Regions from separate parts of the Homo sapiens genome. Here region 1 is linked to region 2. Evidence: fine-mapped expression QTL. A gene starts in region 2. The other region holds a variant in brackets. All regions are shown on one strand. Distances are from middle to middle.

Region 1 (5,520 bases), 46 kb after region 2:
TGTCAGGCGCCACTGGGCTCCAGCCACACCTGCCTGGAAAGCCTTACTTTCTGTTTCACGATACCTAGTTCAGAGTCAGCCCACCCATGGGATCACTCTCATTTAAAGATCTTAGGCAGAATAACCACATAATTTACTGCTCAAAATGGGACCCTTTTGAGAATGAAAGGAGCACAACTAATTATGAAGCCAAGACAACAGGGGCAGATAGTTACTGTCCAAGGCAGATCGGGATGCAAATTCAAGCTCAATCTTAAGGAACAATTACATTTAATTTCGGAGCAGAGATCAATAATATGTGCTGAGCCCTGCGAATGATTTAAGTTGCTGCCTTTGTCCGCTGCCCAAGCTTCTCTTCTAAATGGATTTTTTAAACAGTGCATTTCCCTAACACTATTTTCTTAAAACTTTATCCTTTAGAATACCAGTTTCGGCCCATAAACTCAAGTGTGTAAAAAAATTAGTTTGTTTATAAAATTCTCCTTCATCTGTACTTGAGCCCCGCTCTTTAAAAAGGTGCTGACCCTTAATCCCAGTCAGTTCTGAGTTTCCTTTGCAGTTTCCATTTTGGGTTTGGGGTGGGGTGGAGTGCAGGGTTCTAGACTCTCAGTGACCTACAAAGGGTCCTGCCCTTCATGTCATCTATCCTTGTCCCATCTGGTCCTGGGTCGTTGGTGCCTGCAGGTTATTGTGGAGGTCAAAGTCTCTCTCCACCTCTTCAAGCAGCCTCACTCAGGGAGCTTGCCTGGGGTCCTCTTGGCCTAGATACACCCAGCAGCTGTTCTGTTCCCTGCTCTCAGATCCACAGATTGTGAGGGATGCTGCTTTCTCTGTGGGGCTCAGTCCAGGGAGCGGGGATTGGGACCTCAGCCTCCAGGACCTAGCAAAGTCAATGTTTCTCAACTTCCCTCCAGCCTTTGTCCTTGCCCTGGGGAATTATTCTTGGATATGAGTGAGGGGCAGGGAATGCCTTGATCTTTCTCATGACCATTTTCTCCCACACTTTGGTCTAGGTCTAGGCCAGAAGTCTCTTCTATTCCCCTAAGGAAAGAGGCTCCTTACCTCTTCTTTCTGTTTTCACACACCTTCCCTGCAGCAATGAGCATAGAATGGCCTGGCTATTTGAGGCAGGGAAGGGAGAGAGGTAAGGGGAGTATCAGGCTGGAGAAGGCATTGGCTAATATTTCAGAACATAATCTTGCAAGGCATATAAAAATATCTTATACAAGATGTGCTTCCTGTTTTAACTATTATGATTTTATAATTTTTCAGATCTTGTAGGCAAGACTCCCTATTCCCATCCCCCAGGCCAGGGCAGCCAGTTATCAGCTGTGTGAACTTGGGCAAATTATGTTATCCTCTCTAAGCTTTAGTTTTTTCGTCTGTAAATGAGGATAATAGTAGTTCATATCAGTGCTTCTACTTGCCAAGCACTGCTCTCAATGTTTCATGTATGTTACCTCATTTAATACTCATCATAAACCTATGGGATAGCTGCTATCATTCCCATTTTACAGATGAGGAAACCACTTCTCACAGTTGTAACTTGCCCAAAGTCATGTGATCTCCTGCTCTTAATCACTTCCCCAACCTGTCTTTCATAAATATTAATAATGACCTCAGCCAGGCGTGGTGGCTTACTCCTGTAATCCCAGCACTTTGGGAGGCTGAGGTGGGAGGATTGCTTGAGCCCAGGAGTTCAAGACCAGCCTGGGCAACATATTGAGACCTCATCTCTACAAAAAATTAAAAAGTAGCCTGGTATGGTGTGGCACCTGCCTATAGTCCCAGATATTTGGGAGGCTGAGGCAGGAGAATCGCTTGAGCCTGGGAGGTCAAGGCTGTAGTGAGCTGTGATAGTGCCACTGCACTCTAGCCTAGGTGACAGAGTGAGAATGCTGTCTCCACAATAAATAAATAAATAAATGAAATGACCTCTTGAGGTTGCTGTGAGGATTAATTGAGGTAAGGTATGTAAAGCTGTCAGCCCTGAGCCTAGCACATAGTAAAAACTCAGTACATTCTAAGCTCATACTTTAGCCATGATTTTTTGGTCATTTTCATTCAAAATGCCCTTGGAATTGTATTTAAAATATATATAAATGTCTGAACTTAAGCATATTTGCCCTATTCAGTTTTCCCATCCAGAAATATGATGTCTTATTATGTGTTTCTTAGCAAAGTTTTGCCACGTGTCCTCATATAAAACATGCATTTCTAGGCGAGTTTATTTCTAGATGTTTTAGGGTTTTTGTTTTTATTGAAAATGAAATCTTTTCCTCCATTGTATCTTTTGATCAGACAGTGCTGGTGTCTCCAGGTTCTTATTAGTTAATCAGCTCCCAGATGTCTCTAGAGGCTATGTCTTTCCATAGCCCTCTTATTTTAGGTTGACATGAAGATCATTTGGCCCAGCCAGTGACATACGCTCTGAGAGAGAGGCACAGGGGCACAGGGTGAGAAGTAGCTTTCCAGGGTAGCTCAGGTTGGCTGAGGTGATCAGAGAACTGTCCTTTGGCTAAGGAAGTACAGCCTGGGGAGAGGGGAAGGAAGGGGCCAGCCCTTGCTTGGCTGCATGCTGTTTCTGGGTCCATTTGGGGATCTGTCTGAAGAACGAGTTCCTAGGTACCCACATTTCCTCTGTGGCCTCAATGAT[T/G]CCCAATAGTGTGTGCCAAATGATGGCTCCAGTGGCAGCTCTGCCAAGGCCCAAGATGCCTCCGTGGGCTCTAGCTTGCTTAAGTAGAGAGACTGTCATCCAGCAATGTCTCATTCTTCATCATGTGATTAAGAGCAGGAGATCACATGACTTTGGGCAAGTTACTTACAACTGTGAGAAGTGGTTTCCTCATCTGTAAAATGGGAATGATAGCAGCTATCCCATAGGAAGTGGAGGATACATAATCTGTGGCGTCCCTGAATCAGCTCCCTGCCTGACTCCACTGCAGACCTCCAGAGGGCAGCAGAGAGCAGGCAAGACGGGAGAACAGGACTTGGTTCCTGGAGAAGCAAAAAAGACTCTCTGCTCCTGCAAGCTGCTAGGAATACTGCTCATCCCCCTCCCCGCCTCCTCAGGATACACATGTGAGCTTCTTCCTGAGGGTGTAATAATTATAATAATATTATTAGTTAATACTAACTATTCCCTGTGGGCCAGACATTGACCTAAGGTTTCACATTGATTCAGATAACCATTGAGGTAGATATAATTATTATTCGCATTTTTTTTCAGTTGAGGAAATTGCAGTGAAAAAAAAAAGAAGTTGTCCAAGATGCCACAGTTAGTTGAGTCAGGATTTGGACCCAATCATTTATGAGCCAGGCTCTATTCTAGGTATCAGAGATACATCAGTGAATAAGACAAACTTTCTGCCATATTGGAGGAACAGACAAAAAGTGAACAAATGAATAAACACATACTGTGGTTTTGGATAGAAATGCCATTTAGACAAATAAAGCAGAGTTAATGACCAGAGAGGGGCATTTTAGATGGGCTGGTCAGGGAAGGTTTTCTTGGGTAGATGGCATTTGACCAAATAGTTGAATACACGAGGTAGCAAGTCAGGCTGAAGATTAGGGAAACAGTAAGTGCAAAGGTCCTGAGGTGGGAATGAGCCTGGGGTGTTAGAGGAACAGCAAGACTTGCGTCGTGGCTGCTGTAGAGTGAGCCGAGTCCATAGGCCACAGCAGCGATTGGGAAGTAGATAGGGGTGGTGAAGAAAGAGAACTCCTCCACAGCATCACCTGGGCTTGGCCTCTTACAATGTCTCAGCTTCTCTTTAACATATCTCTCACCTTTTTTCACCTTCCTGCAGAGTGCTGACACCATCACAGTATGTTCCCTTCTCAACCCTGGACATGGTTCAGAAACAGCTAAAGCAGACAAGAATCTGGGGCAGCCAATATTGTACCACCTGCCAAAGCTTGGCACAAACAATCTGGAAGCCAAAAATTGCACATACTGTGGTGAGTACTGCCCAGCCTGTGGGGAACTTCTTGTGGGTAAAGGTTCTAGATAAGCCTGCCAGGGCCCCCAAATGAATCCTTAGTCCCATTAACAAGGGCCTAAGTCCCGCAGGCCTTTCCAGGGTAGGAAGCTGCTATTTTCTTCAAAGAATTTTGCCCCCATGCCATGGTCCTAGGTCAGACCTACCTAAATCCTTTCAGATGTCAAACCCAGGTAGGGTTCAGATGGCATTTAGCCAGGAGATGGAAGGGAATCCGTCCCAGTGAGCAGCCATCACTGTCCACCAGGTATCTGAAGAAAATGGAGGCACAGAGGTCAAACAGTCATCCCTCAGCATCTGCAAGGGATTGGTGCCAGGACCACCCGTAGATATCATAATCTGAAGATGCTCAAGTCCTTCACATAAAATGTGACCTATGCAATCCTCTGTTTATCTTAAATCATCTCTAGATTACTTCGAATACCTAATACAATGTAAATGCTATGTAAATAGTTTTTTATACTGTATTTTGGGAGTATTATTTTTTATTGTTGTATTGTTATTTATTTTTATTTTTTCAAATATTTTTGATCTGCTGTTTGTTGACTCCTTGGGTTAGGAACCTGTGGATATAGAGGGCCAACTGTACTAAGAATCTTTAGCTCCCTCTCCTGGCAGATCCCTGGCGAGTGAGGTGGGCCTATGTTGAGTGCTCCTTTTGCCTGAGTGAGAGCCTAGAACCAGAGACTGAATGCCCTAATCCAGGATTTCTTGATCATGGCACCATTGATAGTTGGGGTCAGATAATTTTTTTGTTGTGGGGGCCATCCTTGTAGGACGTTAGCAGCATTTCTGACCACTACCCACTAGAGGCCAGAAGTACTCTCCCTCCAGTAGTGACCTTCCCTCCAGTATAACCAAAATAGATCCAGACATTGCCAGATGTGCCCAGGGGAAGACACCTGTGGCTGAGGAACACTGGGGCCAGTTCTTTCCCTTTCCCCAAGACCAGTGCATGAGCCTCAGCTGTTACCACTCTGGTGGTGAGGAAGAGTTGACAGTATCCCCCAAGCATTTACTTCAGTGCCACAGCTGAGTGGCTGGCTTGGCATGTCCTTGGCTGTAACATGGAAGGAGGCCAGAGGACAGGGAGCAGAGAGAAAAGGGGTAGCCATATCTTCTCTCAACATTTTTTGGCTTACAAAACTAAACCACAGGGAAGGGCAGGGATGAGGTTGGCCATACACATCACAGGACTAGGTCTTTCTCTCCCTCCTCATCTCTCTCTCTCTTTCATGCACATACATGCGCACACACACGCACACACACACACACACACACAAATGGACACCCCTCTGCCATTCTGTGTATTGGCTTTTCTCTCTCCCACTGAAGACAGGCTTTTTCCAGAGACAAAAGAGTACTTTGTGCAGGAGGAAAAAGTTAACGAATGGACTGATTTTGCCCAAGAGATTGGCAGGGCAGGAATAAGAGGTTATGAGTATCAATGAGAGAAGAGAGGAAAGGATTCATTATGATGTCCAGACCAGAAGGGGAAGTAAATGAAGCCATGAGG
Region 2 (5,162 bases):
CCTGTTATTATTGGATCAAGTCCTTCTCTGTCTGCCTGATGTTAAACTCCGTGCCTACCCACAGTTACCTCCCAGTATGTTGCAATGTTATTCAATAAATGTTTATTCAATAAATATTTGACCATGAGCTACTTACTGGCTATTGGATCATAAAGAGGAAAAGGTGTGGGCTATGCTTCAAAAGGCTTATAGTTTGATAGAATAACCATCTACAATTCGTTACTTCAGCTAAGCTAGGGTTCTTTACTATTCGCTAGTCAAGCAAAGTTATTTCTGCCTCTGTTCATACTGTGTTCACAAGTTACAGGGCTTTGTAGGCCTTTCCACATATTTTTTATTTTTATTTTATTTATTTATTTTTTTTTTTTTGAGACGGAGTCTCGCTCTGTCGCCCAGGCGGGACTGCGGACTGCAGTGGCGCAATCTCGGCTCACTGCAAGCTCCGCTTCCCGGGTTCACGCCATTCTCCTGCCTCAGCCTCCCGAGTAGCTGGGACTACAGGCGCCCGCCACCGCGCCCGGCTAATTTTTTTTTGTATTTTTAGTAGAGACAGGGTTTCACCTTGTTAGCCAGGATGGTCTCGATCTCCTGACCTCATGATCCACCCGCCTCGGCCTCCCAAAGTGCTGGGATTACAGGCGTGAGCCACCGCGCCCGGCCTCCACATATTTTTTAAAATTCCCATAATTCAAGGCATGCTTAGGTACTCCCTTTCTTTCTAGCTCACCTCTCTCCTGTCTATAATTTCTTATATTTATTGTGTAGATGTATATACCATTTAGTATCATGTCAGGTAATTCTTTGCAGTTCTATAATTTCTGTACTTTTTACAAGGTGCTTTTTTTTTTTTTTTTTTGAGTCTCAGTCTGTCGCCCTGGCTGGAGTGCAGTGGTGCGACCTTGGCTCACTGCAACCTTCACCTCCCGGCTTCAAGCGATTCTCATGCCTATAGTCTCTCAAGTAGCTAGGATTATAGGTATGCGCCACCACACCCAGCTCATTTTTGTATTTTTAGTAGAGATAGGGTTTCACCATGTCAGCCAGGCTGGTCTTGAACTCCTGGTCTCAAGTGAGCCACCGGCCTCAGCCTCTCAAAGTGTTGGGATTACAGGCATGAGCCACCACACCTGGCCTACAAGGTACCTGTATATGCTTTAGCTTTTTTGAACCTCATGATACTGACGTAGATATGGCAGATATTATTTTCATTTCATAGGAAAATAAACAGATTCCAAGAAATTAGGGGACTATTGATACCTATGTGGTTAGTGAGTTGTGAGGCTATTTTTAGATCTGAGCTCTTTTGAATTTTTTAAGGCAGTGTGGCCTACAGGAAGAGCAGGGCCTTGGAAGCCTAGATATGTCTGTGGTAATGGTGAGGGGTAGTAGAAAGCACAGAGGGCTCTGGGTCAGGTTGTTTCCAGTTTTGGCTCTACTCCTCACAGTCTGTGTGTCTTCAGGGAAGTTGCTCAGTTCTCAAAGACTCAGTTGCCTTGTCAGCATCATCCCTGGCCAACCTCTCAATGGGGTTATTGTAATGTCTATATATGATGACATTGTTCTTAGCTAACTTTTATTTAGCACTTATTAAATACCAGGCGGTGTCCTGGATGCTTTGTTTGGATTATCTCAGCTAATCCTCACGATACCTCTCTGAGATATGTTCTTTGTTACTTCCCTATGACGGATGAGGAAATTGAGGCATAGAGATGTTAAGTAACTAGACCAAGTTTATGTAGCTACCAAGTGATAAAGCCAGGAAAGTAGCCTGAGTCTAGAACCAGTACTCAACCATGGTTCTATAAAATGTCTTTTTTTAAGGTGTCCTATAGACTGTAAAGTGCTCCGAACATGTGAGGTCCAGGCTGCAAGGATGTGCCTGGCCCTGCCCACCTGTGTAATGGCGAATAGGGAAAGGAGGGGGCGACATGGAGATTTTGCAGGGAGGAGAGAGATTATTTCCTAGGGGGTCTGGCCAGGACTGAAGATTTGGAATTGTGTTTTGGGGCCATATTTCTGAATGTTGGCTGTCATTCTCCTGTTGGGCTACCTGGCCTATCTTAAGAGGGTAGAGCGGGGTAAAGTCACTGTTCTGCCAGTGAAGTAAGCCCAGTGCAGAAAAGACAGGCGTCCCTAGGCCCAAGGGAACTAGATCCATACCATACTCAGTGGAGCCATAGGTCAGACCCCAGGCCAACCTTGTTGGCTGTGTAGGGGCAGGGACCCTGGTCTTTTGGTTTCTAGCCCATGATAGATGGGCCAGTGAATGAAAGCAGTGTGGTAACATAGTCCCTTGGAGACCTCTCATTAGAATGCATAATCTCATTAAATTAAACAATTCTAATTATAAAAGTAATACATGGTTACTGAAGAATTTTTGTGAAATACAAAAGCGTAGAAAATAAACCATTTCATTGGGTCTGAGATGCTAGGAGGCAAGGCCAAGAGTACAAGGGGCAGATGACTGAGGTGGACTGGGCCTTGTGCTACAAGAAGAAAGAAGGGCTCTCTGCTTTTGACTACTGCCTTTAGTAATCCAGTTGAGTCTGATACTCTTGTGTTTTACAACCTGGCCCCTTATAACAACCATAAAGGGTGAAGGGTGACTATGGCAACCTTTGCCAGCCTTGTGGGAGGGGGCTAGGGTACTTGGCTTGCTTTGCTATGTGTGTGAAGTTGCCTTCATTACTGCCCTTCTCTTGCTGCCTCCTGGGCAGGGCCTGCCTCCTCTGGCTCAGTGTGAGATTGAAATCCAGGCCCTACTCACATGAATTTGGACCCTGAGTCCAGAGTTTAGAGAGGGGAGGGAGAGAGAAGAGCACCAGAAAGGTAGATGAGAGACCCTTATTTTGGCTGTGTGGAGGCTCTAGGCAGCTGATCGCTTTGAAGTGTCACTTGATGCTTATGGGCCTGCTGAGGCCTTACATCCTGGGGGAGAGGGGAACAGTGATGGTGAGTGGGTACAGACTAGGAGGACGTGTCAAGACTGCTTCCAGCCCTAGGACAGTGTATTCAAGAGTTGAGTGCTGAGGGTCTGTGGCGTATGCCCAGCCCTTAGTTTCTGGCCCACGTGAAGCAGGGGGGCACTAGGACCCAGAGGCTAGCACGGTTCCTGACAAGTCTAGAGCAGCACTAGCGCAGAGTGAGACTCATCAGCTGGCAAGCAGGATTCTGTGTCTCTGGGTTCAGGAATCCTCAGGCAGCAGAGGGGACTTGCTCCTCAGCCCCCATCACTGCCCCCACCCCTACCCGTGTAGGCCACCGAGTGAGGCCCATGGACTGGGGAGGGCTGTGCCTGACGACTCCTGTGTCCCTCTATGAGGGCCCAGCGCCCTGACCCTCCTGCCTAGGTTTCTACCTTTTCTCTCTGTCTTTGGCCAGCTGGGGGAGGGGGTAGAGGCCGGGTGAGCAACATGGCACAGAGCAAGAGGCACGTGTACAGCCGGGTAAGTGGCCCTAATCTGGGATGGCCCTGGAGGGCTGCTGGGGAAGGCCTGGCTGCCTGTGGACATCATTGCTGTGGGGGCTGGGGAGATAGGCTGGAGCTCAGCTGAGGGCACTCAGACTGTGTTTTCTAAGGAGCCCTCGAAGCCCTGGTGGTGTAAGGCTGGACAGGCTTCCCTTTACAGAGTTGATCCCTAAATGGGGACTAGCAAGGCCTGACCTCTGACTCTAATTGGCCCTCATACCAGGGGCTCCTGAGGGGGTCCAGACTATCCTGGGGACTCAGAATGGGGATGATGGCTCAGAGAGGTCTTACAGTGAAGCCTTTCTTAAGAGCTGCTTTGTTATTTGTTACTTGCTTTCTTTCTCTTCTGAGATAGAATCTGTAGCTACTGTTGTGGCCCCCTGGTTCTGAGAGGCTTATTGGGGTTGGAAAGTGGGGGAGTCTCTGACTTTGGGTTCAGCCTTTTATATCACTGGCAATTCCTTTTATTGTCAGGTCCATGAGAGCCATCCTGCTGTTCCAGGTGTGATTTGGGGTCCTGGAGCCTCTGGGAACTACATCCTCACCTTCCTGGATGAGCTGTTTGGGGAAGGGAATTAGGCAGTGATAGGCTGGGAGGTGTCCTGGCTCTTCCCTGGCTCTGCCAGGGCTCCCTTCTGAAGCTATTATAAATGAGAGTATCAGAAGGGTCTCCCATAGAGTCTTTAGGATGATGGTATCACTTCATCATGCCTCATTCATCTGTTTGCTGCAAGGCCCCTGGTTCATGGAGTTGCTGTTGCTAAAAATGACCTAAGTGTGATTTTCTTCTAAACCATGGGCCTATTTGGGACCTAATTTTCTATTGTGTTCAGTCATCATGGGTGTGCCGAAGCTAAGAGCTGCCCAAGGACAGTGTCTTAGTCTGTTGTTTTGCCTTGCCCATCTGTGGAGTGATAAACCATTCATTTGGACCACTGAGCAGAGTCTTGGGGACAGAGCGAGGGGTAGATCCACCCAATTTACTTGGCCTGTGTTTTCCTTTTTATAGCAACATAGCATGGAGAAGAATCTCCAGAGCTTGGGGATAGAGAGTTGACCAAACAAGACTCAGGCCAGGTAGAAGGGGAGTTGAATGGTTGAATGGGCTGTGGTGAAGCATCTGGGGTTTCATGGTGGGTTTGTGGATGGGGGTGGGAGGAGTCAGATCAGGAAGGAGAGGTGGTGACTTAAGGGTCTGGAAGGAGGCACAATTGTGTGCCTCTGAAAGGGTGAGGCCTAAGAAAACCATTTGAAACACAGAGGAGACAAGTGACAGTGGAAGGGGAAACAGGATTCTGTAGGATCACCCACTGAATTGCCTGTCTTCCCAGCTCAGACTCCTGAGTCAGGGCATTGGGTTGTGGGGAGCCTGGTCTAAACTGAGTTATTTGCTTGATCTTATTTCCCCTCCTGAGAAGAGAATTAAGGAGACAGTGCTCCTGAGAAAGCAGCCATGTGGTGACATTCACAGACTGGTCAATGAATTCTGATTTGTTATAAAAAATATAAACTTAAAAATTCTAGCAGATTCCAGAGGAATTTGGAGAAATCTTAGAATATCATTGGCATTTTTTCAAAGGGGAATTTGGGGGTCCACCCAATTCTGTAAATGGGGTTTAAGAAAATGACTCTGGTTGTTTTTCAGTCCAGCATCTTGGCTGAGGCATTTCTTATACATAAGAATGCCACCTTT

Which allele goes with the higher level. Positions count from the first base shown, and alleles are read on the strand shown. Sizes are in standard deviations (SD) of each study's normalised expression.
With allele T in place of G in region 1, the expression in monocytes after Pam3CSK4 of the gene that starts at base 3,140 in region 2 is higher (large effect, 1.0 SD a copy in Quach 2016).

What was found. PIP is the estimated chance that this variant, and not a neighbour inherited with it, causes the effect.
Region 1: its variant is fine-mapped to the expression of DCTN1 in monocytes after Pam3CSK4 (Quach 2016, PIP 0.95).

What each region holds. Positions count from the first base shown.
Region 1 is chr2:74,332,470-74,337,989 of GRCh38, reverse strand. It overlaps SLC4A5 (solute carrier family 4 member 5), which reads left to right. Exons shown (of 31, transcript NM_133478.3): 4 at 3,813-3,963. Among named protein-coding and RNA genes, the nearest start is that of SLC4A5, 8.2 kb to the left of the region's middle. RefSeq lists an enhancer at 2,854-3,043 and a silencer at 4,546-4,635. The variant T/G (reference allele first, on the strand shown) is at 2,657.
Region 2 is chr2:74,378,289-74,383,450 of GRCh38, reverse strand. It overlaps DCTN1 (dynactin subunit 1), which reads left to right and starts at 3,140. Exons shown (of 32, transcript NM_004082.5): 1 at 3,140-3,446. The coding sequence starts at 3,414. RefSeq lists an enhancer at 2,828-3,339.